4 linked regions of the Homo sapiens genome follow. The protein of the gene in region 2 interacts with the protein of the main gene of each other region in a pairwise test. Each region holds a gene or a part of one and is shown on either strand. Other genes may lie near its edges. The genes, in order: THOP1, EPN2, MID1 and DAZAP2.

What was found.
Region 1: the proteins of EPN2 (region 2) and THOP1 interact in binary tests that used the Homo sapiens proteins (3 or more experiments, as listed by UniProt).
Region 3: the proteins of EPN2 (region 2) and MID1 interact in binary tests that used the Homo sapiens proteins (3 or more experiments, as listed by UniProt).
Region 4: the proteins of EPN2 (region 2) and DAZAP2 interact in binary tests that used the Homo sapiens proteins (3 or more experiments, as listed by UniProt).

Annotation. Positions count from the first base shown.
Region 1 is NC_000019.10:2,802,503-2,809,526, forward strand, and holds part of THOP1 (thimet oligopeptidase), read left to right. Parts: exon of another isoform or gene 1-1,693; intron 1,694-2,108; exon of another isoform or gene 2,109-2,153; intron 2,154-2,513; coding exon 2,514-2,674; intron 2,675-4,414; coding exon 4,415-4,550; intron 4,551-4,939; coding exon 4,940-5,306; intron 5,307-5,740; coding exon 5,741-5,942; intron 5,943-7,024. UniProt on the Homo sapiens protein: Involved in the metabolism of neuropeptides under 20 amino acid residues long. Involved in cytoplasmic peptide degradation. Able to degrade the amyloid-beta precursor protein and generate amyloidogenic fragments.
Region 2 is NC_000017.11:19,240,359-19,247,382, reverse strand, and holds part of EPN2 (epsin-2), read right to left. Parts: intron 1-7,024. UniProt on the Homo sapiens protein: Plays a role in the formation of clathrin-coated invaginations and endocytosis.
Region 3 is NC_000023.11:10,561,571-10,568,594, forward strand, and holds part of MID1 (E3 ubiquitin-protein ligase Midline-1), read right to left. Parts: intron 6,034-7,024; 5' UTR 5,978-6,033; coding exon 5,318-5,977; intron 1-5,317. UniProt on the Homo sapiens protein: Has E3 ubiquitin ligase activity towards IGBP1, promoting its monoubiquitination, which results in deprotection of the catalytic subunit of protein phosphatase PP2A, and its subsequent degradation by polyubiquitination.
Region 4 is NC_000012.12:51,234,141-51,241,825, reverse strand, and holds the start of DAZAP2 (DAZ-associated protein 2), read right to left. Parts: upstream 3,001-7,685; 5' UTR 2,919-3,000; coding exon 2,906-2,918; intron 1,484-2,905; coding exon 1,365-1,483; intron 956-1,364; coding exon 710-955; intron 1-709. UniProt on the Homo sapiens protein: In unstressed cells, promotes SIAH1-mediated polyubiquitination and degradation of the serine/threonine-protein kinase HIPK2, probably by acting as a loading factor that potentiates complex formation between HIPK2 and ubiquitin ligase SIAH1.

The sequences.
Region 1 (7,024 bases), on a different chromosome or scaffold from region 2:
ACCAACACCTCACGACACCCACACCTCCCGACACCAACACCTCCCGACACCAACACCTTCCGACACCCCCACCTCCCGACACCGCCACCTCCCGATACCCGCATCTCCCGACACCACCATCTCTGGCATTAAGTTCCTGGTGCATTTTGGAGGGGACGCACCCAACCAGAGCAGAGACCTGTGAGTGTCCATCACTCGCACATTGTCATACACTAGTTGCCATGTCCATGGATGACTTCTGCCGCCCTCACCCTCTGGGCATCAGTCATCCTGCCGTGACTCCGAACCTTCCCTCCTTGCCTGTCTTCTTACTGATTTGTTTCTGTCCGTGTGCATGAGGCTTCTGTCTTATTCCCGGGTTATCATTCATTATCATTTATCCCAGTGCTCAAATCGTCCCACATGGACCCTCAGGAGTCCCTCCGAACAATCCCTGTGTCCTTGTAATGCACCTGCTGTCCTCTGAACCTGCTCTTACTGTGGGGCACATGGTACCGCAGGCTCGGCCTCTGAGCCCGCGCTTACTGTGGGGCGCGCGGTACCGCAGGCTCGGCCTCTGAGCCCACTCTTACTGTTGGACATGTGATGTCGCAGGCTCGTCCCATGCTCTCCCTGCCCCAGCCCTCAGATGCTCCATTTCTTGGAGGAGACCTGGCGCCTTTGAGTGGAGGGTGACTTAGGCACCGGATGTGTTCACCACTGCCAGGGAGCAGCATTCCTGGGCACCGTTAACAGTTAGGAAGCAGACACGCATCTCTGCACCACACATGGACACACACACTCTTCTATTCTGTGTCTGTATATCAAATCCACAAGTGCAGCGGGGCATGCCGGCACACACCTGAGGTCCCAGCCACTCGGGAGGCTGAGGCAGGGGGATTGCTTGAGTCTGGGAGTTCAGGGCCACAGTGAACGTGAACTATGCATTCGTGAACTATCCATTGCAGCCTGGGCAACAGAGCAAGACCCTTTTTCTAAAAAAATAAAAACTTCCAGGAGTCCACTTTGCAGCTTCTCTTCCAGTCCAGCGCTGCTGGGCCCCCCAGCTGTCTCCCTTGCTGTCCTTTAACTCCCGTCTCCGACCGCCAGCCGTCACTCCTGGGTGACACACTGTCGAGATGGAGAGCTGCTGTTTGAAGGCCCGTGGTCCTTGGAAAGGACGATGTGCAGGTCCCGGGAGGCCTCCCCCTCATGCTGCAGTCACTCGGCAGACAATTGCCAGGCCCACGCTGGTGCTGGGGTACAAACGGGAAGGCGGGGGCTCTGCCGGCCACAGGACTCTCAGCTCCCTCATCACCACCCACACCCACGGGCTGGCCTCCCAAAATTTCCCCCATCTGCCTCTGGCCCCCCAACCGGATCATTCTTTCCACCCTTGCCTCCCTGGGGTCCCCGTGAGCTCCCGATCATTCTTTCCACCCCTACTGCCCTGGGGTCGGGGTGAGCTCCCAATCATTCTTTCCACCCTGACCGCCCTGGGGTCGGCGTGAGCTCCCGATCGTTCTTTCTACCCCTACTGCTCTGGGGTCCGTGTGAGCTCCGGATCATTCTTTCCACCCTGACTCCCCTGGGGTCGGAGTGAGCTCCCGATCATTCTTTCCACTCTGACCGCCCTGGGGTTGAGGTGAACCAGTCTTTGCATTGAAGCTGCAAGCCTGAGGCACGGTGGCCCTGGCGTCTCCCGAGCCATGAGGTAGGAACCCCAGAGGGTTTCAGTCCGGGATGCTGCCGCCCCCACTTCTCTTGAGGCTGTCGGGCAGGGGCCAGGTGGGAGGGTGTGGCTGCCGGGCAGCGGGGTGAACTGTGTCCTGCCAGGGGTTTTGTGGGTGGAGAAGGGACAGCAGGGCTCCAGTGAGAAGCTCTGGGAGTAGGAATTGGGTCTCTCTGGAGGGACACACTTGAAAGTGGTTGAGCCGTGGGGCTGCGTGCTGAGATCTCAGCTCTGAGCGGGAGGCTCTGCCTGGGGGTGGTTCTTCAGGAAAAGCAAAGCAGGACCTCCCTCTCCACGTGGGGCCTCCCTCTCCGCCCAGGGCCCAGCGTGCTCAGCTCTCCTGCTGTTTTTGTCTTTGATGGGAGGCACTGCCTCTAACGCTGGTTTCCTTGTGCAGTGGCCGGGCCACCCTTCCCGCCACCCTCCTCCCTTCACACATGAGGTTGGTGACGGCGCCCTGGAAGCCCACGATGTCCGGGGGTTGGGCTGGATTTAGCTTTAACCTCTCTGGGGCAGGAGATCCTGCTCTGAGGATGCTGGGGGGTTTCCTGGTGGGGTTAGAGGCGGGACGTGAGAAACGTGGCAGGTGGTGGCCAGGCTGTGGGGGAGCCAGGGTATTTCTTGATGGGGTTAGATGGGGGATGTAAGAATTGCAGCGGGTGGTGGCCAGGCTGCAGCTGCTCGCTGAGGGCCCCCTTGTAGCTTTCCAGGCAGAGGGGAAGCCCACCCCTTCCCTCACACGCTGTGTGCAGGCTGTGGGCCCATCAGTCCTGTCAAAGCCACCCTGGTTCTGTCCCCATAGGAGGGCTCCCCGAGGACTTTCTGAACTCCCTGGAGAAGATGGAGGACGGCAAGTTGAAGGTCACCCTCAAGTACCCCCATTACTTCCCCCTCCTGAAGAAATGCCACGTGCCTGAGACCAGGAGGAAAGTGGAGGAGGCCTTCAACTGCCGGTGCAAGGAGGTGAGAAGGCACGGCCAGGGGGCCCCAGAACAGTGGGTCTGGAGCTTGTGGGGCCCGTCTGCTCCATGTGTGTGAGGCACCTCCAGGCTTTGCACTTGGATGGCCTCCCAATCTCCCTGGCCAGGCCCAGTGGCCAGCAGAGGCCTCCCTGTGGGGCTCTGCCGTGCCCTGGAGGTGTCTGTGCTGGGCTCCACCCAGACCCTGGGGCCACAGCTCAGGGCCCAGTTCATCCTTCCCAAGCTGAGCCTCCTGCTGCTGCTCTGAGCATCTGGCCGCGCACACGTCTCGTCCCTCCCTTATCTGGAGCCGCCCCTCAGGTGTGTCAGCCCAGATCATTCCTTTTGTCTTAAATGATGGTGCCCGGACCTGAGCCTGGGTCCACAGGTGGGTTGTGACTGGGCTATCTCGCTGTGACTGGCGTCAGACGGCCGTTCCCACAGGGACACATGTAACTGTCCACGGCGCCATGGTGTGGTCGGTCAGGTGGTCTCTGCACGTCTCCCATTCGCCATCTGGAACAGGCAGAGGCTCTAGGAGTGGGCCTCTTGGTCCCCTGACGACACCAAGTTGGTGCTTGTGCGGCTGGCAAAAGGGGGATACACGCTGATCACTGCAAAGGGATGGGCGGGCACTGATCACTGCAAGGGGACGGGCGGGTGCCCATCACTGCGGGGGGACGGGCGGGTGCCCATCACTGCGGGGGGACGGGCGGGTGCCCATCACTGCGGGGGGACGGGCGGGTGCCCATCACTGCGGGGGGACGGGCGGGTGCCCATCACTGCGGGGGGATGGGCGGGTGCCCATCACTGCGGGGGGTGGGGGACGGGTGGGTACCAATGGGGGTACAGGTGGGCACCGATCACTGCAAGGCAGGGGGGTGCTCCTCGCTGTTCAGGGACCGGGAACTCAGTCTGCTCAGATGGGGCGTGGCCTGCCCTCTACATGTTGGCTATGAATTCATGTTGCTGTTAAGCCTAAGTAGGTGGACCCGTGGACTGGGCACACCTCGACTTCCCCACTGCGCCTTAGAAGGTCAACTGGGCAATCCCGTCCTGGTCCCCAGGCTTGGGTCCTAGTGGCAGAGTGAGGGCCAGGCCAAGAGGGCGCACACGGGTGGGCTGAGTTCCAGGTCCCGGGGGATGTGCCGCCTCAGAGACCTTGCTGCTGGCGGTCGGCCTGGCCCCTATTTGGCTGGCTGCTCTGCACGCACCTGCTGGTTACAGCTGGGTTTCCTGTGGACCCAGCTGGTGGGCACATCTGTCCTGAACAGGCCTCTGTTTCTCCTCGTAAACGCCTCACGTGGCTTTCATGCGTCCTCCCCCACCCCCACTGGCTTGGTTGGCAGTGCCAGTCCTCAGAAGTGAGGCTGTGTGCATGTCATTTGCTGGTGGCGATAGGCAGAGCCCGTGAGACTGGGAACCAAGGCCTGGACATGGAGGTGTCCCCACATGCAGCAGTGATGCCCTCGGAGGCTCCTCGGACAGCCCCTGGTCCCCATACCACGTTCCGTGTGAGGCCTTAGAGTCATCTGCACCCCTTCTGGTTCCAAAAAGGCCTTGGGATTATGATAACGCTGGTGGCATGACCAGAGGAGTTGTGTAGTAACACAGGCCGAGAGGGGCAGGGACCGGAGGTCAGACGGAGCTGGATATGAGCCTTTGGCCCTGGGACAGGGCGTGCTGGCCCTGGAGGTGGAGGGAGTGGCGCCCCTGGGTGACAGTGTGGTGGTGTCGGTTGCAGGAGAACTGCGCTATCCTCAAGGAGCTGGTGACGCTGCGGGCCCAGAAGTCCCGCCTGCTGGGGTTCCACACGCACGCCGACTATGTCCTGGAGATGAACATGGCCAAGACCAGCCAGACCGTGGCCACCTTCCTAGGTAGCCCTTCCTTCCTCCTCCACTGGGGTCCCTGTGGGGAAGGTTCTCAGGGTCACCCCAGGGGACAGTCGGTGCTACCCCTAGAGCCTTGTCCTTTCCCTCCATGAAGAGGGACTTCTGACGCCTGCCCTGGCTCCCTCACTCCCCCCGAGGGACCCTTACAGAACAGGGAAGCGCCCGGGCCCTGGGGTCAGTCCCATGCTTGCACCCGGCCCCGCCGCCCCCTCACCCTGAGCGTGAGGATGCTCGGCCCCTCGAGGGGTTGCCGGGAACTGCGGGTCCTCCCTTCCAAATGGGGAGCCTGACGAAGTCGCGGCCGCGGGCGGGCGAGCCCAGAGCCATGGAGGAGCCCGCGAGGCGAGAGGCCCACCTTTCTGCCCTCCCCGCAGATGAGCTGGCGCAGAAGCTGAAGCCCCTGGGGGAGCAGGAGCGTGCGGTGATTCTGGAGCTGAAGCGTGCGGAGTGCGAGCGCCGGGGCCTGCCCTTCGACGGCCGCATCCGTGCCTGGGACATGCGCTACTACATGAACCAGGTGGAGGAGACGCGCTACTGCGTGGACCAGAACCTGCTCAAGGAGTACTTCCCCGTGCAGGTGGTCACGCACGGGCTGCTGGGCATCTACCAGGAGCTCCTGGGGCTGGCCTTCCACCACGAGGAGGGCGCCAGTGCCTGGCATGAGGACGTGCGGCTCTACACCGCGAGGGACGCGGCCTCGGGGGAGGTGGTCGGCAAGTTCTACCTGGACCTGTACCCGCGGTGGGTGAGGGCAGCGGGGGCGGGGGGCGCACCCCGGCCCTGGGTCTCCTCGGAGCCCGGTGTGCCCGTCTGAGATGGGAAGGAAGTCGTTGCCTGCTCCATGGGGCCTCGGGGATGAACCCCGAGACGTAGCACCCGTGGGCACACCACAGGGGCCGAAAATGCAGCTGTCCCCGTTTCCAGTCTCACTCAGCCACCCCGACAGGGCGCAGCTCTGCCCAGGCCGGAGTCCTTTAGGGGAGGGATGGCAGCCGGGGCCTGGCCGTGGTTTTCATGCTGCCCTGCGCCAAGCCACCTCTGCTGAGAGGGAGGTTTAGAACCTCAGAGGTGCCCGGCGGTCTGGGTTAGCAGTCAGGTGGGCTGAGGGATGCGGAGTCAGGGACTCTTGCGGTGTCTCTAGTCCCTGCGGGGCCTGACGCTGCCTCCCTCCCCAGGGAAGGAAAGTACGGGCACGCGGCCTGCTTTGGCCTGCAGCCCGGCTGCCTGCGGCAGGATGGGAGCCGCCAGATCGCCATCGCGGCCATGGTGGCCAACTTCACCAAGCCCACAGCCGACGCGCCCTCGCTGCTGCAGCATGACGAGGTGGAGACCTACTTCCATGAGTTTGGCCACGTGATGCACCAGCTCTGCTCCCAGGTGGGTGCGGGCCCGGGCAGGGGCAGGGGCAGGGGCAGGGGCAGGGGCTGCCTGTGGTCAGCGAGGCCCAAGCCTGGGGCTTCGGCTTCCGGCTCTCTCTGCACCCGTCCGGTGGCTCCTTCATCCAATGCCACCCAAAGATGGTGACTCCCTGTCATGCCCGTGTCCTGGGGCTGCCCCAGCAAAACACCACAGACCAGGGCTTACACAAGGTGCGTGTATTTCCTCATGGTCCTAGAGGCTGGAGTCGGAGGTCACAGTGTCAGCAGGGTTGGCTCCCTCGAGGTCCCTCCTTGGCTTGTGGCCGCCACCACCTCCCCGCATCCTCATGTGGTCGTCCTTCTGTGTGGGTCCCCATCTCGTCTTCTTACAGGGACCCCAGTCATGCCGGATCAGGGCCCGCCCAACAACCTCACTTGACCGTAGTGACCTCCTTAGACATCCTGTCTCTAAGTAGTCACATCCTGGCCAGGCGTGGTGGTCCACGCCTGTAATCCCAGCACTTTGGGAGGCCGAGGTGGGTAGATCACCTGAGGTCAGGAGCTCAAGACCAGCCTGGCCAACATGGTGCCATCTTGTTGCAAGCATCTGTCCTAGCACACAGTCAGCAATCGCTCCTCAGAAAGGCTCTGTCCTATGAAGTCACTGAGAACCCTGAGAAGTGCATGCAGACCTGTCCCTCCAAGGGGACCCTGGTCACGTGTTCGCCAACTGATCATTCCAGAACCTTACTGTGTGTGTTTTGGGTTCAAGACACCTTACTGCTGTACAGCGCTGACGGGTTCACGTTGAACACATGGCTGGTGGCTCTGTCACCCACACCTGAGCACAGCTTGCACACACAGGGTGTCCCCATGAGGCACATCATGGCCTCCTGGTGCTGAAGGAGACGAGACAGTGCTCTGCACAACGCTTGGGGCCTTTTAAACACAAAATCACCAAGAGCAGAAAGATGCAAACACCGTGCCCCCACTAGACTGAGAAAAGGACGCTTGCTCATAAAATGAGCCGAAGTGAGAAGACAGAGTGCGGCCCTTCTGAGGACCGTCTGCTCAGGGGCGCCGCAGTGCTGGCCTCTGGGG
Region 2 (7,024 bases):
ATCATGGCTCAACAAACTGCTAGCTTCTGTCTCACAAATAGTAACTTTGTCTTCTCAATTAGATTAAGTTCTTGGTGGCATTTCATTTATAACCATTATTTGCCTCTAGATCACGTGTTCCATATTTTTCAGGTTGACACTGGCCTCAGTCATGAAACTGTCCTTGAAATGCCCATACTTCTACATCTCCCAGCTGCTTCTCATAAAGTGACATACAAATTCTTTCTCCAATCAGATGTTTCCCAAATTTTGTCATCCATAGTATAGTCATTATATCCCAGGACAGCTCTGAGTATCAAAAAGGCACACAGGGGGCTGGGCGCAGTGGCTCACGCCTGTAATCCCAGTACTTTGGGAAGCTGAGGTGGGCAGATCACGAGGTCAGGAGATCAAGACCATCCTGGCTAACACGGTGAAACCCCCTCTCTACCATAAATACAAAAAGAAATCAGCCAGGCGTGGTGGCGGGCGCCTGTAGTCCCAGCTACTTGGGAGGCTGAGACAGGAGAATGGCGTGAACCCGGGGGCGGAGCCTGCAGTGAGCTGAGATCGCGCCACTGCACTCCAGCCTGGGTGACAGAGCGAGACTCCGCTTCAAAAAAAAAAAAAAAAAAAGGCACACAGGGAGGACTTGCTTTCAGGGGGGAAAAAAAAAACAAAACAAAACAACTGCGTCCCTTTATTGCTAGGATATTTTTTTGGGGGGGGCGGAAGGGGCCTTTTAATACAACTTTTTGCTCACATTGATTTATTCACCTCAGAGTCTTAAAGAGTTCACAAAACAAACTCAAGTCCAAGCCTCCAGGGCCTCCCACAAGTGCAGGGCAAGCACCAACACATAGCTGTTTACCATTCCTTGGTTGGGGAGCTGCAAAGAGTGCTCAAACCTTGGGAAAATGCTCACACCCCAGCCTCCCCAGGACATTTTAAGACCAGAGAGAAAATTACCCATTGGCTAGAACCCAGGTGTTAATTGCCTACTGGGGAAGGACATACTTCACATGGAATTATTATTATTCTTATTATTTTGAGACAGTCTCGCTCTGTCGCCAGGCTGGAGTGCAGTGGCATGATCTCAGCTCACTGCGACCTCTGTCTCCCAGTTCAAGCGATCCTCCTGCCTCAGCCTTCCAAGTAGCTGGGACTACAGGCATGCGCCACCACGCCCAGCTAATTTTTGTATTTTTAGTAGAGATGGGGTTTCACCATTTGGCCAGGATGGTCTTGATCTCTTGACCTCATGATTCACCTGCCTCGGCTTCCCAAAGTGCTGGGATTACAGGTATGAGCCACCACGCCCAGCCACATGTAACTTTTTAAGACTACCAAATTCCAGCTGGGTGCGATAGCTCACGCCTGTAATCCCAGCACTTGGGGAGCCCGAGGTAGGAGGATCACAAGGTCAAGAGATGAAGAAGGGCCGGGCATGGTGGCTCACGCCTGTAATCCCAGCACTTTGAGAGGCCGAGGCGGGCAGATCACCTGAGGTCAGGAGTTCGAGACCAGCCTGGCCAACATGGTAAAACCTGGTCTCTACTAAAAATACAAAAAAATTACCCAGGCGTGGTGGTACGTGCCTGTAGTCCCAGCTACTCAGGAGGCTGAGACAGGAGAATCACTTGAGCCCAGGAGATGGAGGTTGCAGTGAGCCGAGATCGCGCCATTGCACTCCAGCTTAGGCGACAAGAGCAAAACTCCATCTTTAAAAAAAAAAAAAAAAGAGATCAAGACCATCCTGGCTAACATGGCAAAACCCCATCTCTACTAAAAATATAAAAATTAGCTGGGTGTGGTGGCACATGCCTATAGTCCCAGCTACTCGGGAGGCTGAGGCAGGAGGATTGCTTGAACCTGGGAGGCAGAGGCTGCAGTGAGCTGAGATCCCGCCGCTGCAGTGAGCTGAGATCCCGCCACTGCACTCCAGCCTGGCAACAGAGACTCCAACTCAAAAAAAAAAAAAAAAGACTACCAAATTCCATATTTGACCCCCTTTTAACAAAGTAGCATTAGTAGAGGGTTTTCAGTCCTTAGTACCCACACCAGTGTGCAGAGCTGCAGGATCACAAAGTAAAAAGAAATGTCCCCTTCGCTCAAGGAAAAATTTGGCCAATTATTTTAACACAGCTCTGCAAACACAAAAACCCTTACTAGCCCACACAGACTTCCTTGGGGTCAAGCCATCTAGGGTAGCCCTAGGTCCCTGCTGTACACATCCAGGCAGCTTAGGGCCACCTGACAGAGAGGTAAGCTGTTATCATAGAAACAACTTCATAAAGCTCCAAAATCAGACAGGTGTGGGACTGAATTCAGGTCCAGCCAGCCACTGGCCAGGTGCCCATGACCAAGCTTGCCTCTTCCGAGCCTCAGCTTGCTCAGCCTACCTCTTGGGGTTGTTGTGAGGGTACAGTGAGGTAATGGGCGCACCTGGCACAGCTGCAAATGAGGTCGTGGAAATAAAGCAGTTCTGAGTTTGACACAGGTGGCAGCAAATACCAGCTGGGGCATACCAGCAGGAGTTCATACTAACTGTATGGCCTGGGGCAGGTTACTGAACCCCTCTTAGTTTTTTAAAATGCAAAATGAGAAATGGTGATAGGGCTTGCAGGACCACCATGAAAATTAAACACAGTGCATAAAATTAGTAATATAAGGCCTCGCACACAGGAAATATTCAAAAACCATCGGGGCTCACACACACCTCCCTGCACATTCGGTTTTGATGGACAAGTTGATAATTACCACTGAAGAAAAAAAATTCGAACTGTAAACATGAAAGAATATTAAATCTGAATTGCTGCAGGGAGGAGAAGCAACTTCCATTAACACCAGTGGTCCATGCCAAGTGGCCCCGTGGGAATCCAGGACCCAACAACATTACTCCCTCAACCTTTTCAAGTTACAATTCTTTCTTTTTTTTTTTTTTTTGAGAAGAGTCACACTCCCTCACACAGTCTGGAGTGTAGTGGCACAATCTCGGCTCACTGCAACCTCCGCCTCCCAGGTTCAAGCAATTCTCGTGCCTCAGCCTCTCGAGTAGTTGGGACTACAGGCCCACGCCACCACACCTGGCTCATTTTTGTATTTTTAGTAGAAATGGGGTTTCGCCATGTTGGCCATGCTGGTCTCCAACTCCTGGCCTCAAGTGATCCACCAGCCTCAGCCTCCCAGTGCTGGGATTACAAGCATGAGCCACTGCACCCAGCCCCCAAGTTACAATTCTAAAAGGCCTAGACAGTAAACTTCTTACATGATGTGTGAGAATGATGAACCTGCTTTTTCAACAGCATCCAAGATTTACAGCCTTTTTGAAGGACAATGACATCTTCTCTCCCCATTTCCTTTCCAAATGTCACGCCATCCATCATCTTCAGACCAATATTCAGAAACATTTCAGTGTCATTTTTGAGTTCCTACTGCACAGCCAGCAGGTGCTAGACATCTTACACACCTTCCCATAAAGTCCTCTGGGCCAAGGTTCCCAAATTTGGTCCCTAGACTGGCAGCATCAGCAGCACTTGGAAGCTGGCTAAAAATACACATTCTCTGCCAGGCACAGTGGCTCATACCTGTAATCCCAGCACTTTGGGAGGCCAAGACAAGCGGATCACTTGAGGTCAGGAGTTTGAGACCAGTCTGGCCAACGTGGTAAAACCCCATCTCTACTAAAAATACAAAAAATTAGCCGGGCATGGCCGGGCGCAGTGGCTCATGCCTGTAATCCCAGCAGTTTGGGAGGCCGAGGCAGGCGGATCACAAGGTCAGGAGATCGAGACCATCCTGGCTAACACGGTGAAACCCCATCTCTATTAAAAATACAAAAAAATTAGCCGGGTGTGGTGGCGGGTGCCTGTAGTCCCAGCTACTCGGGAGGCTGAGGCAGGAGAATGGCGTGAACCCGGGAGGCGGAGCTTGCAGTGAGCTGAGATCGCGCCGCTGCACTCCAGGCTGGGAGACAGCGAGACTCCGTCTCAAAAAAAAAAAAAAAAAAAAAAAAAAAATTAGCCAGGCATGGTAGCACACACCTGTAATCCCAGCTACTCAGGAAGCTGAGGCAGAAAAATCGCTTTAACCTGGGAGGTGGAGTGCAGCGAACCAAGATCGCGCCACCGCACTCCAGCCTGGGCAACAGAACAAGACTCTGTCTCAAAAAAAAAAAAAAAAAGACACATTCTCAGGCCTCCCCTCCCTAATGAGAAACAATGGGGTGCAGCCCCAGCCACGTGTTCAGCAAGCCCTCTGGGTGCTTCTGCTGCACACAGGAGTTTGAGAAACAAGGCTAGTCTATTTCATGAAGTAGTGATTACGAGCCCCCCTTTAGAGATGAGGACACCAAAGCTCAGTGATTAAAGTGCCCAAAGCCACCCAGCCAGGAGGCCCATTAGTACCCACACCTCATTCCAAAGCTATCTGCCACATGGCCTTTGAAGCCAAATTAACTGTACCACTTGGTGTTCTCAGCTATCGAGCTGCTGCAACGTGCAACTACCTAAGAGGGGTGGGACCAAGAGGAAAAATGAAGCCTGCACTCAGAAGTGATTAATTATAAATGCTTTTAAATCCACATCATGCATTAGCCCTAAACAATCAGCCGTCCCCCAGGATGAGCCTACTTTTCCCTGTTCTATATATCAGCAGGGTTACCATGAAGAGAAGATGGGGAGTCCCTTTATTTACAGCCCTTTGCATGTCCAATTCCTTGTATTGCTTTGAACAGAAAGAGAATTAAGTTACCTGTCCTGTCTCTAGAGGGCTTGAAAGTGAAGCACACTCTGCCTAGACCAGGACCAACAGGAAACAGAATCAGGAAAAGGACTTTCTATGCCCAGGAACGAAGCAGGCTCCAGCACCTAGGTACTAGGGGAATGAGTCACAGAAAGAATCCAATGCATGGATAGGGAGCATTTTAACAATGTTGCGGATCTGGTTCAAAAGAAGACAGGTTTTTTGTTTTTGTTTTTTGAGACAAGAGTCTTGCTCTGTCACCCAGGCTGGAGACTCACTGCAACCTCCCCTTCCCAGGTTCAAGTGATTTTCCTGCCTCAGCCTCCTGAGTAGCTGGGACTACAGGTGTATGCCACTATGCCCGGCTAATTTTTGTATTTTTTTGGTCAAGACAGGGTTTTGCCATACTGGCCAGACTCGTCTCAAAAACTCTAGGCCTCAAGTGATCCGCCCACCTCAGCCTCCCAAAATGCTGGGATTACAGGCATGAGCCACCGTGGCTGGCCTAGGCTTTTTTTTTTTTTTTTTCAGATCAAACACCAAATCTAGTGTCTCTCAGCTAAAATGATCCATTAATTATTGACATTCAAACCACAGTGTTTTCAAAGGTTCTAAGGTTAGGAAAGAGCCAGAAATCTCGTTATTCACAATTCCCAACCTTCTAAATAAACTTGGTGGTGACTTTCAGACAACAAATTTATTCTATTATTTAAATGAATACCTATTATTTTGTGGGGCCTTCTACAGGGGCCAGTGGAGCAGAAGGGACCCAGGCCTGGGAATTACACAGATTCACTTTGAATCCTGGCTGTGCCAGTTCCTCACAGCTTACTTAACCTCTCTGGGCCTCAGTTTTTCTACTCACAAATGGGTGATAATCCCTATGTTAAATGTTGATGGAAATTACAGTGGTTTAAAAAAAGGCTGCTGAAACGGCTTTCAACATATACTTATTTCACTGTATTTGTTTTTCTAAGTTTCTATTTTTAGTTAACTTGAATGAACTAGTTAAGCAATAAAATTCCATTGACGAACTTATCAGAAAGTTTGTCAATTTTTTTTTTTTTTTTTTTTTTGAGACAGAGTCTTGCTCTGTCGCCAAGCTGGAGCACAGTGGTGCGATCTCGGCTCACTGCAACCTCTGCCTCCCAGGTTCAAGTGATTCTCCTGCCTCAGCCTCCCGAGTAGCTGGGACTACAGGTGTGCACCACCACGCCCAGCTAATTTTTGTATTTTTAGTAGAGATGGGGTTTCACCATGTTGGCCAGAATGGTCTCGATCCCTTGACCTCAGGGTGATCCGGCCGCTTTGGCCTCCCAAAGTGCTGGAATTACAGGCGTGAGCCACCATGCCCGGCAAGTTTGTCAATTTTCAAAAACTCAACAGATGGACATAAACATTCATTTCACAATGCATCTGACAAAAAACAAATGTGCTCTTCCCATCCTCAACCACCTTAATCATATCACCCCACCTCCCTCAGTCCACTGTTAACTTGCAGTGTGTCTCTTCATCCCCATGAGACTTGGTCCTCGAAGTAGGTAACAGGTATAATAACATTTTGGAGTCCAACAGATCTGTTCAAATCACTTACTGGCTGCGCGACCTCGAGCATGTAACTTAAGCTCCCTAGGCCTCAGTTTCCTCACCTGCAGATGAGGTGGATAAACCTATGCAACTGACACACAATTGCTGAACCAACAGTAGTGATTTCAGCAACAGTGCGACAGAACAGTAGGGAGCCATAAAAATGTGCTCCCCTGCCTCGAGGAATACTGGTGACAAACCTTTACTGAGCATCTACCATCTATCAGAGACCGAGCCTGGTACTGGAGAAGTAAAGACAAGCTGACCACTGGCCTCAAAGACGTCACAGTGTCACAAGAGCCCCAGATACACGGACAATGTCGTAAGTGCACCAGCAGACTGTGTGGGTTGGTGAAGGTAGGATAGCAGAGAAAAAGGGGCCAAACATCGGACGAGCTAGACGGCAAAGTATTGACAGAAGAGGTCTGTTTACACCGAATACATGAGTTAAAAGTCCAGCAGACAAAAAAGGGATACAAACTACGTAATTCCTCACATCTTTTCCAGCCTCAACTTCCCCGAATCCAAGGCCGGCCATGGTGGCTCACACCTGTAATCCCAGCACTTTGGGAGGCCAAGATAGGTGGATCACTTGAAGTCAGGAGTTCGAGATCAGCCTGGCCAGCATGGCAAAACCCTATCTCTACTAAAAATACAAAAATTAGCCGGGCATGGTGGCACACGCCTGTAGTCCCAGCTACTCGGGAGGTTAGGC
Region 3 (7,024 bases), on a different chromosome or scaffold from region 2:
CACTTCTCAAAAGAAGACATTTATGCAGCCAACAAACATATGAAGAAAAAAAGCTCATCATCACTGGTCATTAGGAAAATGCAAATCAAAACCACAATGAGATACCATCTCAAGCCAGTTAGAATGGCGATTATTAAAAAGTCAGGAAACAACAGATGCTGGCGAGGCTGTGGAGAAATAGGAATGTTTTTACACTGTTGGTGGTTGTAAATTAGTTCAACCATTGTGGAAGACAGTGTGGCAATTCCTCAAAAATCTAGAACCAGAAATACCATTTGATCCAGCAATCCCATTACCGGGTAGATACCCAAAGGATTATAGAGCATTCTGCTATAAAGACACATGCACACATATGTTTATTGCAGTACTATTTACAATAGCAAAGACTTGGAACCAACCCAAATGCCCACCAATGATAGACTGGATAAAGAAAATGTGGCACATATACACCATGTAATACTATGCAGGCCTGAAAAAGAATGAATTCATGTCCTTTGCAAGGACACGGACGAAGCTGGAACCCATCATTCTCAGCAAAGTAACACAGAAACAGAAAACCAAACACCGCATGATCTCTCTCATAAGTGGAAGTTGAACAATGAGAACACATGGACACAGGGAGGGGAACATCACACACTGGGGCCTGTCAGGGTTGTGGGGCGAGCGGGGGAGAGCATTAGGACAAATACCTAATGCATGTGGGGTGTAAAACCTAGATGATGGGTTGATAGGTGCAGCAAACCATCATGGCACATGTATACTTATGTAATAAATCTGCACATGTGTCCCAGAACTTAAAGTAAAAAAAAAAAAAAAAAAAAGAAAATTTCACTCTCTGAGTGGAAGGCCTAAGTGCACCTCTCCTAGTCATTAATTGATTACACAGACTGAAAACATTAATGAGCTCATGGAAATTTTGAAGATACAATAAACTTATTCTAATATTTCTTAAAGCATACTGCATCCATAAGTGAGACCATATGCAATTGTCTTGAGCCCTGATCTTAAGGGATTTAAACTAGAAACCAATAAACAGAAAGACACATTTTAAAAAATACACATATTTGTAACTTCAAAAAAAAACCCCTTCAAGATAAGACTCTTCCCACAAAAAATATACCAAGTCCAAAGTTGACTTGTATCCATCTACCAAACATTCAAGGAACAGGTAAAATATTTTGAGTGATGGGAATATAGTTATTATTGCTATGTTTGTTGTCATCTCTTGCCTGCAGAATGAAATATCCCTAATGAAAATACTGGTCACTTGAATTTGTCTCCAACTTAGATTCAGGAAGATTATAATATTAAATAAATAAATAAATGCATGTATGTATATGTATATGCAAGTATGTGTGTGCATCACACACCATAGCACTAGAACCTGCACTATGCCTGCTACTGGTTTTCAAAGAAGAAACAAGTTATAGAAATTATAATAAAAAGAAGTCTAGCTCAGTATACACTTACAACTTTCCTAGTTGCAAACTGGGAAAGATTTTTCAAACATAGAACCTTACAATCTATAAATTAAACCCAAGAATGAAATCTCATGTCTTCACTTCCAGATAAAAAGTGCTACATAGAAATGCTGAGCTTTAATTTGAACTTTTAAATCAAACTATTAAAAAATTACAATGGGATGATCCGTTGAAACATGCATTATACAAACAAACTTCCTCAGCCAGCCTTTAGAATAAGAATAGCAAAACAATAGTTTGGAACTTCAGCTTCAGCTAATTTGAAGGGGCTATGCTGAAACTGAAAGGCAAGGAAAGGTCAGTTTTTTTCAATTTGTATATTTTTATAGGTATAATTAGAGAAAAGAAACAAGAGCTCCAACCTTGTATGTTGGAACAGAAAAAGAGGACTACTGCATTTTAATTCCTTGAAAACTCTGGAATGCATTAATTATATTAAATTCTCTTATATGTTATGTGGTTCACAAATCAAATTTTTCCTCCAAGTTTGAAGGACTGAGAGGCTTCTTAAAATTCAATTAAAACGATGTAAAGAAATATCCACATTATGGATACGCTCCACTTAGAGACCTTTGCACTTGGCAGGAAAACTTTTCTCTTTTTATCTTAGTAGAGTTCAGGAAATGCTACCTTAATTTTCTCTTTGCTTCAATATTTCATGAGTGCCTCTCAATGCATAGTCTCCGAAAGCGTTAGATTACTGACATGATGCTATTTTACATGATGTGGATGATTTTATTTGTACGAGTTCAACATGTTAGAATTTTTATCTCTTTTTCTTTTACACTTAGAAAAAGATTGTAATGTACAAAATGATATTCTGATTTTTTGTATAAACAAACATCTCTTATACTGAGATCTAATGAGTAAAATATGTCCCCCAAAGTTTAGTATTATTGCAAGAAATTATTCTTCATAATAATTGCAGAATTCCCTTCTTCAGGTAATAAACTTTTACTAACAGAAGGACAAAAATGTTTCCAAAGACACCAGGGTCCTTACATATGCAAATTAATAAAGCAAATCTATTGTCTTATCAATGAAAGCATCCTCAAATTCCTCCATGCTTTATCTGTGTTCTCACATCATCACAAATCCACATCTATATGAGATCCTAGAGCTACAGAAAAATGCATGTTCAGAGCACATTTCAGACCAAAGTAGTAATTAACAGAAATATACTTCCTTGGTTTTGGTCCTCTTGGTATGCTATTACTTCCTTCAAAAAAATCAACATTTATATTGTGCTTAGGTTTTAAATAAAACAAGGATGTACATATGTTCATAAGTATGCGATAACTGAAATATCAGACATCCAAATGTCATAATTATTATTTTTAAAATTCTAACGTAAGTGGCATGTTTTAAAACAAACATGCTATGTCGATAAGTTATTTGTTCAAATGCTCATAAGTACATCTTATTGAACGGCTGTAAATGTGTTTCGGTGCATTGGATGCTGTTTATATGCTTATATTTCTGTAACTAGGAAATAAAAAGAAACCACATCATTAATTGTCAGGCCCTCCATGTGACAGTAGAACAACCGATAGGCCACTGGCTCAATTAAAGTGTGCAGGGCTCGTAACTGAAGAGTTTTGTTTTTATCACAAAGAGGGCTAGAGCATGACAGGAATTCTTCATAAATTTGGAGATGTTATGTAAATATTTAATAACTCTGCTGTGACAGGCCATGAGTACTTGAGCAGAACCTGACCACAAGATTTAAATAAATATCAAGCCTGGGAGTTGTTAAATATTGAACATCATTATGATTGTGGTGTTTTAACAAACAATCATTAAAAGGTAGTGCAAATCCAATCAAAGGAACATTTTTAATAAAGAAACAAAGATCTGGCATGTTTACATTTTGGAAAACAAAAATCAAACATCTCTGTTCAGTTATCCTAAATATTCTCCCTTCAGCTCCACCACCAACCAAAAAAGGGGTAAAAAAAAAAAAAAAAAAAAAGATTACCTTGGTTTGTAAAAATTAATAGCCTTCGCAATTTCTTCAGAATTTGCTCTAGAGGCACAGCTCATACATGCATTGCCTTTGCTATGATTAACTTTGGTGGTACTTTTCTCCTGTGCTGCCATGCACTGTTCTGGAAAGCCTGTCAGCGGCTGTCTTCTGTTGTCTGTGTCACCTGAGTCCTTGTGCTTGACTTCCTCTACATGGTTTAAAGATGGATTTGCACCAGTAATTCTTTGGATACTTGAAGTGAAACATGCTGCCCAGGTGATGCTTTTGTTGCCCAAGTGACATTGAGAAGCAGGAATTGACTTCAGCATGTCGGCTTCCCTCAACATGTCAAGAAATAGCAAAGCCAAATCCCAGATGTGGTCCGTTAATCCCACTGTCACAGAATAAACTATGTGGTCCCAGTAAACACAACCACCCATTAGCGCTAAGGAGAGGTGATAGAAACCATTTGTTAAAGGTGACACTGTTTTCTAAGTGATAACACTCTTTTGATCATGTGATTCATTTTGTTTGCTCAACAACATGGTATGTGTTTTTCCTGAGAGGAAGGACTTCAATATATATTTACTTAGAGCTTTTAATTTATACTTCCTTTCTTTTAATTGGTGTCTTGTGATCTAAAATTAGCTGATGAACATAGTATCTCACTCAAACTCTCTCAGCTGAGTTTTCAATAATTAGACCCACTGTTGCCTGAAATTGAACAAACATGTGGAGACTTGGCTTATTATTTCTTCCCTAGTGCTTTCTATCCATACTTAGAGAGTGATTTTTTTTTTTTTTTTTTTTGAGAGAGAGTCTCGCTCTTTCACCCAGGCTGGAGCGCAGTGGCGCGATCTTGGGTCACTGCAACATCCACCCCCCAGGGTCAAGTGATTCTCCTGCCTCAGCCTCCCGAGTAGCTGGGATTACAGGCACCCACCACCACACCCGGCTAATTTTTTTATTTTTAGTAGAGATGGGGTTCCACCATGTTGGCCAGGATGGTTTTGAACTGCTGACCTCAAGTGATTCACTCTCCTCGGCCTCCCAAAGTGCTGGGATTACAGGCATGAGCCACCACGCCCTGCCTAGAAAGTGATCCTTTTATTTCACATATAGTCATATTAATCATTATCCCCCAAGCTGGAGTTAGGTTAATAATTTCATGTAAAAAATGAAGTTCAAATAGTCTTGACTGTAACCTTACTGAATAAAGAGCCTACACGAAAAGGAATTCTTTCGTGAAACCTGAGATTGTCAGAGCACTGAATTTCACCAATAAGCTGGATATCGTTTATACAAGGAATAAAAGGTCACGTGTCCTCTAAAATCCCACATTTGCTACAGACATTCTTCCCTCTATTCTTTTGTTTGTGCAGTAACTAGATACAGGTACAATGAGAGTGAATTAGTTTTCCCAGATGAGTGAGAAAAGTAAGTGTTCCCCAAATGCCCAAAGCCAGATTTTATCTGTCATTCTCTCTCTCTCTCCCTCTCTCTCCCTCTCTCTCCCTCTCTCTCTCTCTCTCTCTCTCTCTCTCCCTCTCTCTCAGAGAGAGGCAGCACTCTCTTTGGAAGAACTGTAAGGATTGAAAATGATCCAGAAAAACTGCATGGATTGAAAATGATCCAGATTTTTAGAATTTGCCCTCACCTTGACAACGCTAAAATTACAAGCAGCAGTCAACTTTTACAAGATACCCTTATTGTGTAACATTTATAGGTTGCCAAAAACATGCTAAAACTAATCAGATAACAAAGGTGAGGAGAAAACCTTCACCTGCCATGTAGCTAGCAGTGAATACACTTTTTATTTCCATGACATTTTCTGGCAGAAAGGGGTTGGCTTAAGGCGGATCGGACTAACCTTCAATTTGTCATAGCGCTCACTCAAAGCTGCCACCTGATGATCGCGGTGCCGCCCAACCAGTTTACACAAGGCACAGATTAACTGGTCATCGGTCACACAGTACATATTCACCTTCTCATCCTCATGCTCCAAGCACATCAGCCCCCGGATGTGAGAGTCCGGAATTGGCTCAATCAGACGATGGCCTGTAAAGGGCTTCTTATTCGGGTGAGTGGCTTTCAGGCACTCGTCACAGTAGGATACTTCACAAGTGACACAGGTCTTCACAGCGTCCTGGGCAGGATCCTGGTCACAAAACTGGCAGAGGACCTTCTCGGCGGAGGTCATGGTGTTGGCGTCAAAGGCCCGCTCCCGACGGGTCTCGCTGGGAGAGTTGGGCCCGCTCACTGATGCTTTCTGGAACCTGTCGATGATGTTCTGTAGGGTGACGTTGCGCTTGAGCCCGTCTAGACCTCGCTGGCTGAGGGTGATGACATGCCGGCAGGTGGGGCACTGGAAGGCGGTGATGGACTCCACAGACTCGTTGGTGGCACAGTGTGATACTAGGATGCGGTGGGCGCAGTTGAAGCAGAGGCTGTGTGCGCAGGGCAGTAGAAGAGGGTCCTCAAAGAGCTCCAGACAAATAGGGCAGGTCAGTTCTGACTCCAGTGTTTCCATCTTCAGGCAAAGCTCTCTTGTGTCATCAGCAAAACCCAAGGAAGCTGATCAGCTATCTGGAAACAAGAATGTAAGATTTGATTAGGCACAGGGAGGTCAACCATAGGGGGGTGTCAGCTTTGAATGCATCTCAGAATAATTCCAAACACAGGTCATGAAAGGGTAAGTGTGTGTACATTCCAAATAATTCTCTTTCTATTCACTGGGGAAAAAAGGAGGAAAAAGCATCCTGAGCCATCATATACCAGTTAACATTTTCTCAAAGTTCAGTAACTGAAAATGTGCAATTTTTTTTTTCAATTTTGTTTTTTAAAAGGCTTCATTCAAAACTAGAATGTAATTGAAACTGTAATTTCCATAATTTGTATTTAATCAGAATAATCTTATTGTGTCAGAGTCAGGTTTAACCTCGCACAGAAAATTAAAATGTAGAAATATTCATCAATAAACTAGAGTCTTTTATAAATTTGAATTTATAAACTTACGTATTAATGTATACGAGATTTAAGGACTTTTACTCTGCAATACCAAACCAGGTTTCAGAACAATAGGAAGGCAGTAACTATAGAAATGGGCATGAAATGTACATGAAATCAAATGTGGGGATTTCAGCAGAGATGATCGTGTTTAAGTGTGGGATGTCATTTTCCAAAATATATTCCTGAGAAAAAACATTGACTTTCACAAAGATGATTGTGATAGAGGCAATATTTTTGGCATGTGTTCATTATGTTTCTGAATAATTCTATTGTTTAATCCAGCAGTGGGACGTGGGTAGGCAGAACGAAGTGGAGAAAAATATCTGGGGGCTTTTTCAGTGGCTGCAGTAAGTTTGAGTACCAATGACTAATATTTAGAGCAATGATTTAGTTAATTAGAACAAGGATTTCAGTGGTCATCATATTCATGTGATAAGTTATGTTATGACAATGATAATGATTACAGTTGAGAAAGCAATTTAAGGAGGCTTACAAAACTGCTGAGGGACCCTTTTGGCCAAAAAACTCCCACCACGGGCTTGTCACTGTTGCCAGCAACAGGCCAGGC
Region 4 (7,685 bases), on a different chromosome or scaffold from region 2:
TCTTAGCCTCCCAAGTAGCTGGGATTACAGACGCCTGCCACCATGCCCGGCTAATTTTTGTATTTATAGTAGAGTCGGGGTTTCACCATGTTGGCCAGCCTGGTCTCAAACTCCTGACCTCAGGTGAGCCACCGTGCTTCGCCCTTACACAGTTTTTGAATGAACTACTGGAAAACTGAAGGCTCGCTAATGACACATTCACTTCATCTCTAGCATGTAGTTACTGAGCAGTCATTTGAGCTCTAAATCCCACGCACTGGGGAATTAAGTAGGAAAAAATGATAACTAAAATTGTTAATATCTTTCTAAAAGCTACTTACTAGGGATTATACATTCTACTTTTTTAATTATCAGGGTTCCTAGTGCAACACCATGCTGATGGCAAATATTAAGTAAATGGTAAATGCTTATGGAATGAATAAGGAGCATTACTAGACCAGTTCAGTGTACCACAATGAACTGGAAAAGCAGCAAGCAGGACTCGACAGACATGAAAACAAAAGAATCTGGTTAACTCAGCCCCCAGTGAGATGCTACTCACTTGCCACAGTTCTGCCCCCTCAAACACTTTCTGCCTGAGTATTGGATGTCAGTAGTTGTACCAACACTGGCAACTATCATCCAGAAATGGTAAGAGAATGAATATGAAGTCATTTCAGAAAGTTAAAATACACAAGGGCTGAGTTTCTTCTGATGAGGTCATACTCACAGGAATGTTGCCAGCAGTAGCCCCAGCTCCAAATCTGGCACCTGCATCATACCCTCCTTCCACCAGCACTGTGGAGCCAGGTGGATAGATGGGACCGACTGGATAATAAGCCATGGGGATTGTGGAACCTAAAGGCCCAACAGCCACAGACTGGGCCATGGGAAGATACAGAGAGGCTCCAGGAAATGCGGCTGACATGGTGGGGACTGTGGCAGCCCCTGGGTGCACAAAGCTCGGACGATAGAGCTAGAAGAGGCAGAAGAGAAGGCAAAATGTTACTTTATGACATTCCTATTTGAGATCTCTTTAATGAGCTAATTCTTAATTCTCCTTATGCAGGTTATACTTTTTGTAAGATTATACAAGTTGCCTTTCCACTGGCCTTCAATATTCTCCTGGATCACTTTCTGCTATAGCTAATGTTGGGCTCACAGAACGCAAATTCATCTTCTGCACCTTAGCCTGTGCCAAATAACACAAAATCATCAAATAATGCACTTTCAACTCCGACAAAAATTGCCAAATTATATAGTGTTTTAGATTATTCATGTTAGCATTTGTGAAGAGTAAATATGTGAAGTCAGATTTAGCTAAGGACTAAAGGACCACCCTAAGAGTATTCCCAGCTAGTTCAAATCTGGCAAACTGGAAGCACCTCTGAGTAGGCAGGTGGAGCATCGGTATAGGGTGGAGCCTGAGGAAGATGCAAGGTCTGAGGGTATACTGGATTCCCAGGAGGCTGCACAGGGTAGGTTGGCTGTGTTGGATATTGACCTGAAAGACAAGAAAAAAATGAAGGTTGCCTACTACACAGAGCTACCAAAATGAGGCAGGTCATATCGGGTAGCTAACTTAGTGGGAGCAAGCAGAAGGGGATTTGCAAATAGTCTGCCCCAGAGGGCCTGATTCCTGGAACTAAGAAAATATGCATTGTCTTTGCACCCTTAAAATGGAAGGTGCTGGATTCTAACGAGACAAGAAAGGCACTGCTCACTGCTCCTACTAACATACCGAAGTAAGGGGTTAAGTCTACCTGGGCCCAAGTTCCCTCCGGAATGCAGGACAGGTCTGGGGTTCTGGCCTGCTGCTGTTCTGGCTTATCAAGGGTGCCTCTGCTCTAGGTAGTCTCCACAGCCTGTCTACAACCAGCCCAGACTTCGTGGGTAACAGCAGTTCTGATTTTCCTTACAGATTACTATTCAAGGTCGACTTCCAAACAAAGGGTGTGAATGATGGAAGTGAACCGTGAGACTGGGAAAAGGGTGCAGGGCTGAGGGGTGAGGAGGAATATCCTCACTGGAAAAGCGGGGGATCAGGTTTGGTTTTTTGTTTGTTCTGAGACGGAGTCTCGCTCTTTTGCCCAGGCTGGAGTGCAGTGGCGCGATCTCGGCTCACTGCAACCTCCGTCTCCTGGGTTCAAGCAATTCTCCTACCCCAGCCTCCCGAGTAGCTGGGATTACAGGCGCCCGCCACCACGCCCAGCTGATTTTTGTATTTTTTAATAGAGACGGGGTTTCACCACGTTGGCCAGGCTGGTCTCGAACTCTTGACCTCAGGTGATCCGCCCGCCTCGACCTCCCAAACTGCTGGGATTACAGGCGTGAGCAACCTCGCTCGGCCTTTTTTTTTTTTTTTTTTCTATTCCTTTTTTACCCCCTCAACCTATTCCTGCGTTATGGGAATCATGTTCCGACAGACACACTGGTACAACCACAGAAAAGGGGAGAAGTTCTGATCCCGTCAGCGAAGGGCGAGGGGGTGCGAAGGGAAGGAAAAGAGACCTCACAGGCCCCGGCCCACGAACCAACTCCAGCAATTCAGTAGTTAAGTTCGGCCCCGCTGGGGGTTCCGGAGCGCGGCGCCCCGCCTCCGCCGGCTCTCCATTGGCCTACGCGAATGCCTGCGCTAGCGCTCTATTTGCTCCTGCGGATGCCCATCATGTCAAGCCCCCCCACCACCCGAGCCCGCAGCTCCAAACTGCGCCACAGAGTTTACGGAGGAAAGGGCCTGGAGGCAGCAAGCTGCCGTAATTTGGGTATGACGAAGGCGTCAGGCGCAGCGCCCTGGACTGCAGCCGGCCAAGGAGCATGGCGCAGCCCACCCCAAACCTGGCGTTTGGTGACCCTGGGCTCCGAATCCGCTCGCTCTGGGCCAGCAGTACTCCCCCCGACGGCCTCTGCCACCCTCGGTCCTTGCCTTTGCTGTTCATGGTGGTTGCGGGTCCGGTTTGTCTCGGCGTCGCGGACGGTTATTTTTTTCGTCCTCTTCCTGTTCGGAGCTACTTCCGTGTCACATGATGGTCCGTCCGCCTAGCGTCACCCGACGCCCGAGTGGCGCTGCCGCCGGAAACTCCGCCCCTGCTCCGGGCCTCCAGTCGGCCGCGGGAGGGTCCGCGCGGTCCCGCCCACTCGCCTTGGCCCCACCCCCTGCTCGTTTCTGTCCTCCCCCCCCCTACCGGTGTCCCTCAGCTGGAGAAAAACCAAATGCAGGTATTGTCTGGAAACAGGATCTTTTCTCTGTTGGACGCTCGGATGCAGAACGATGCAAGCATTCCCCGGAACCTTTTTCCACCTACACGCATTCACTCAAGGTCACCTCACCTTGGCAACCTTCCACGAGGGGCTTAGATTTCTGCAAATTTGTCGCACTGCCTGAAATCGGCTCCCCACACCTTAGTTTATCATGCGTCCCTCCCCACCAAGCCCAACTTAAGCTTCAGCTCTGTTAAAATTTATTTTGCCACTCCAGCTCACATGTATCCTTTCCTGAATGAGACCTGCACTGGAATCTTCGCTGCCCTGTCTTCCCCAGGACAGTCGTTGCCTTTCTCACGTACAGGAAGGGGTTATGTTTTCCGTGCTGTACGCAACACCTGGCACTGAAACTGACATAACTGCACTACCCATGGAGTGTTTGTGGCCCTTTCCTTTTTTTAGCACCTGTTGCAGGTGACCTGTATGGTACCTCTATTTTTCTCTATGTATGGCTTCTCTTTCTAACCTAATTATCCTTAAGGGCAAAGATGGCATCCTTTAGGGCAGCGATTAAGTGTTTTCTTTTCTTTTTCTTTTTTTTTTGAGACGGAGTCTTGCTCGCTTGCCCAGGCTAGAGTGCAGTGGGGCGATCTCACCACAGCCTCCACCTCCCGGGTTCAGGCAATTCTCCTGCCTCAGCTTCCTGAGTAGCTGGGCCTACAGGCGTGCGCCACCATTCCTGGCTAATTTTTGTATTTTTAGTAGAGACGGGGTTTCACTATGTTGGCCAGGCTGGTTTTCTTTCTTTCTAAAAAAAGTTTTAATTTTTTCTTTTCTTTTTTTTTTTTTTTTTTTTTTTGAGATGGAGTCTTGCTCTGTCGCCCAGGCTGGAGTGCAGTGGCATGATCTCGGTTCACTGCAACCTCCGCCTCCTGGGTTCAAGCAATTCTCCTGCCTCAGCCTCCCGAATAGCTGGGATTACAGGTGCCCGCCACCACGACCGGCAAATTTTGTATTTTTTAGTAGAGACGGGGTTTCACCATGTTGGCCAGGCTGGTCTCGAACTCCTGACCTCAGGTGATCCACCTGCCTCGGCCTCCCAAGGTTCTGGGATTACAGGCATAAGCCACTGCGCCGAGCCTTATTTTTATTTATTTATTTATTTATTTATTTATTTATTTATTTATTTATTTATTTTTGAGACAGAGGCTTGGTCTGTCGCCAGGCTGGAGTGCAGTGGCGCAATCTCAGCTCACTGCAACCTCCGCCTCCAGGGTTCTAAGCGATTCTCCTGCCTCAGCCTCCCGACTAGCTGGGATTACAGGCACGTGCTATTCATTTTTTAATACAGAGATGGGGTCTCCCTGTGTTGGCCAGGCTGGTCTTGAATTTCCAGCCTCAAGCGATCTTGCCACCTCCATTGTCCAATGATTAAAGGGTTAACTCTTAGGACCCAGGAACTCTCCTGGGCCTACCTCCTGCTCATGTAAACTGCCCTCAGATTGGTCAGGCCTACTTTACAGGTTGTTGGGTATTTTGCTTGTCACAGTGGGACCTGGGCATTGGGAAAACCAGGGCAGAGCCAAATGAGATTACTAACAAAAATGAAAGAGTTGCAGGCCAGTGCTTTCTCTGGCAGGTGGAATTAAGAAGTAAATGGTGGCTGGGTGCAACAGCTCACACCTGTAATCCCAACACTTTGGGCAGCCTAGGCAGGAGGATCGCTTGAGCCAGGAGTTCAGAACCAGCCTAGGCAGCATAGTGAGACTTCATCTCTACAAAAAAAAGTAGTAGTAATTAGCTACTTTCTTGAACAGGATCAAACTTTGGCATTTTCTTCATTCTCGTAGATTCCCCAATGAGATGAAGATGTTTATTTGGTCATTTATCAAACATTCTTTCTTACATTAATTTAACAAATATTTTTTGAGCACCTATTATGTGCCAGGCCCTGTGACAGGCACTAGGGAAATAATAATGAAGAGACAGGCATAGTCCATACTCTCATGGAATTTATGGTCTACCTAATGGGAGAGACAGAAAAGTGAACACATAATATGATTAGTGCTGACATAAAGACAGCATGGAGTGTGAGGAGAACACATAGGTGAGGCACCTACTCTATTCTGATGTAGTCAGGGAAGGTTTCCTGATGCAAGTGATGTCTGAGATGAAATCTGAAGGGTGAGAGCAGGTTAAGCAAGTGAAGAGGGTTCCTGGAAGAGGGAACTGCTTATGCAAAGGCCTAGAGGTGAGAAGGCTTATAGAGGGGGAGGGCATGAAAGAGTTCAGTGTAGCCAGAGCATACTGGTAAGGGGACTGATAAAAGATGACCCTGAAGATCCGGGTGCGGTGGCTCATGCCTGTAATCCCAGCACTTTGGGAGGCCAAGGCGGGCAAATGACTTGAGGTCAGGAGTTCGAGACCAGCCTGGCCAACATGGGGAAACCTCGTCTCTACTAAAAACACAAAAATTAGCTGGGCATGGTGGTGCGTGCCTGTAATCCCAGCTACTTGGGAGGCTGAGGCAGGAGAATTGCATGAACCTGGGAGGCGGAGGTTGCAGTGAGCCGCGATCGTGCCATTGCACTCCAGCCTGGGTGACAGAGCAAGATTCTGTCTCAAAAAAAAAAAAAAAAAAATTGACGCTGAAGAACTGTGAGCCAGACCTTGCAGGGACGCCTTAGAGCCCATGTAAGATCCCACATGAAGATACTGGATTCTATGTTAAGGGCACTAGTTAGCCACTGAAGAATGTTAAGCAGGAAAGTGATATGATCTTGTTTTTGTTTGATTGATTGATTGATTGGGACAGGGTCTTGCTCTGTCACCCAAGCTGGAGTGCAGTGGTGCAGTCACAGCTCACGGCAACGTTGAACTCCTGGTCTCAGTTCATCCTCTCACCTCAGCCTCCCGAGTAGCTGGGACAGTGGGTGCTTGCCACCATGCCTGGCTAATTTTAAATTTTTTATAGAGACAGAGTCTCACTTTGTTGCCTAGAGTAGTCTAGAACTCCTGGCCTCAAGCAATCCTCCTGCCTCGGCCTCCCAAACTTGGGATTACAGGCGTGATCCACTGCTCCTGGCTTGTGTTTTTCTTTTAGAAAAATGCTTCTGGGCCAGGCACAGTGGCTCATGCCTGCATTCCCAACAATTTGGGAGTCCAAGGCAGGAGGATTCTTTGAGCCCAAGAGTTCAAGACCAGCCTGTGCAACGTGGTGAAACCCCATCTCGGCAAGAAATTTCTAAAAAAGTATCCAGGCATAGAGGCACGCACCTGTGATCCCAGCTACTCGAGGGGTTGAGATAGGAGGACTGCTTGAGCCCGGGAGGTCGAGGCTGCAGTGAGTCGTGGTCACACCACTGTACTCTGCCAGCCTCGGTGATAGAGGCTATCTCAAAAAAATAAAGAAAAGAAAAGGAAAAATCCCTCTGGTTGCTAAAGAATATAGAATAGGTTAAAGAAAGGGCAAGAGTGGACGTATGTCTGAGATACCATTTAGAATCAAATTTAGTCATTTAGGTGTGATGATGGCAGACTGGCCTAGGGAAGAGGCAGTACAGTAGAGAGAAATGGGGGGATTCCAGAAATATCCAGGAAGCAGAAACAACTGGACTAGTTCCAGGACTAATGTCAGGACAAAATTTCTACAAAGTCAAAACTCCATATAGTCAAATGACAAATTGGAAAAATATATTTGTAATTTACATCACAAAGAGCTAATCTTCCTGCATGTAAAGAACTCTTAGACATCAGTAAGAATATGATCAACCATTAGAAAAAAATGGCAAATGACATTTACAGACAGACAGTTCACAGAAAAGGAAAAACAAATGACTCCCTAACACATGAAATGATGTTCAGCCTGGGTCGTAATCAGAAGGCAGATTAAACCCCACCGATATCATTATCAGATTGGCGAAAATCCAAACATTTGCTAACATTATTTGCAGGGCTGTGGATAAGCAGGCATTCTAATTTGTTGGTGATGGGGGTGAAAATTGGTACAAATCCTATAAGGTTAATTTGGCAATATCCATCAAACTTGCAAACATACCATTCCCACTAATGGGAGTGATTCTACAGATATATTTGCACTCACGAGAAACGTATGTATAAGGCTATTCATTGCAGCTTTTCTGTAACAGCAAAAGATTAGAAATAACCCATATTTCTATCAATAGGAAACAGAAAAAATAAATCTTGATACATCCATACAATAAAATACTATGTGGCTGCAACAGAGAATGAGAAAGTACTCCAAGGTGTTCTTTAAATAAAAAAGGGAAAGATTCAAAACCATATACTTAGTGTGATACATTTTATTTATTTTATTTTTTATTTTATTTTGAGACAGAGTTGCACTCTTGTCACGCAGGCTGGAATGCAGTGGCGTGATCTCGGTTCACTGCAACCTCTGCCTCCCAGGTTCAAGTAATTCTTGTGCCTGAGCCTCCCAAGTAGCTGGGATTACAGGTGTGCACCACCATGCCTGGCTAGTT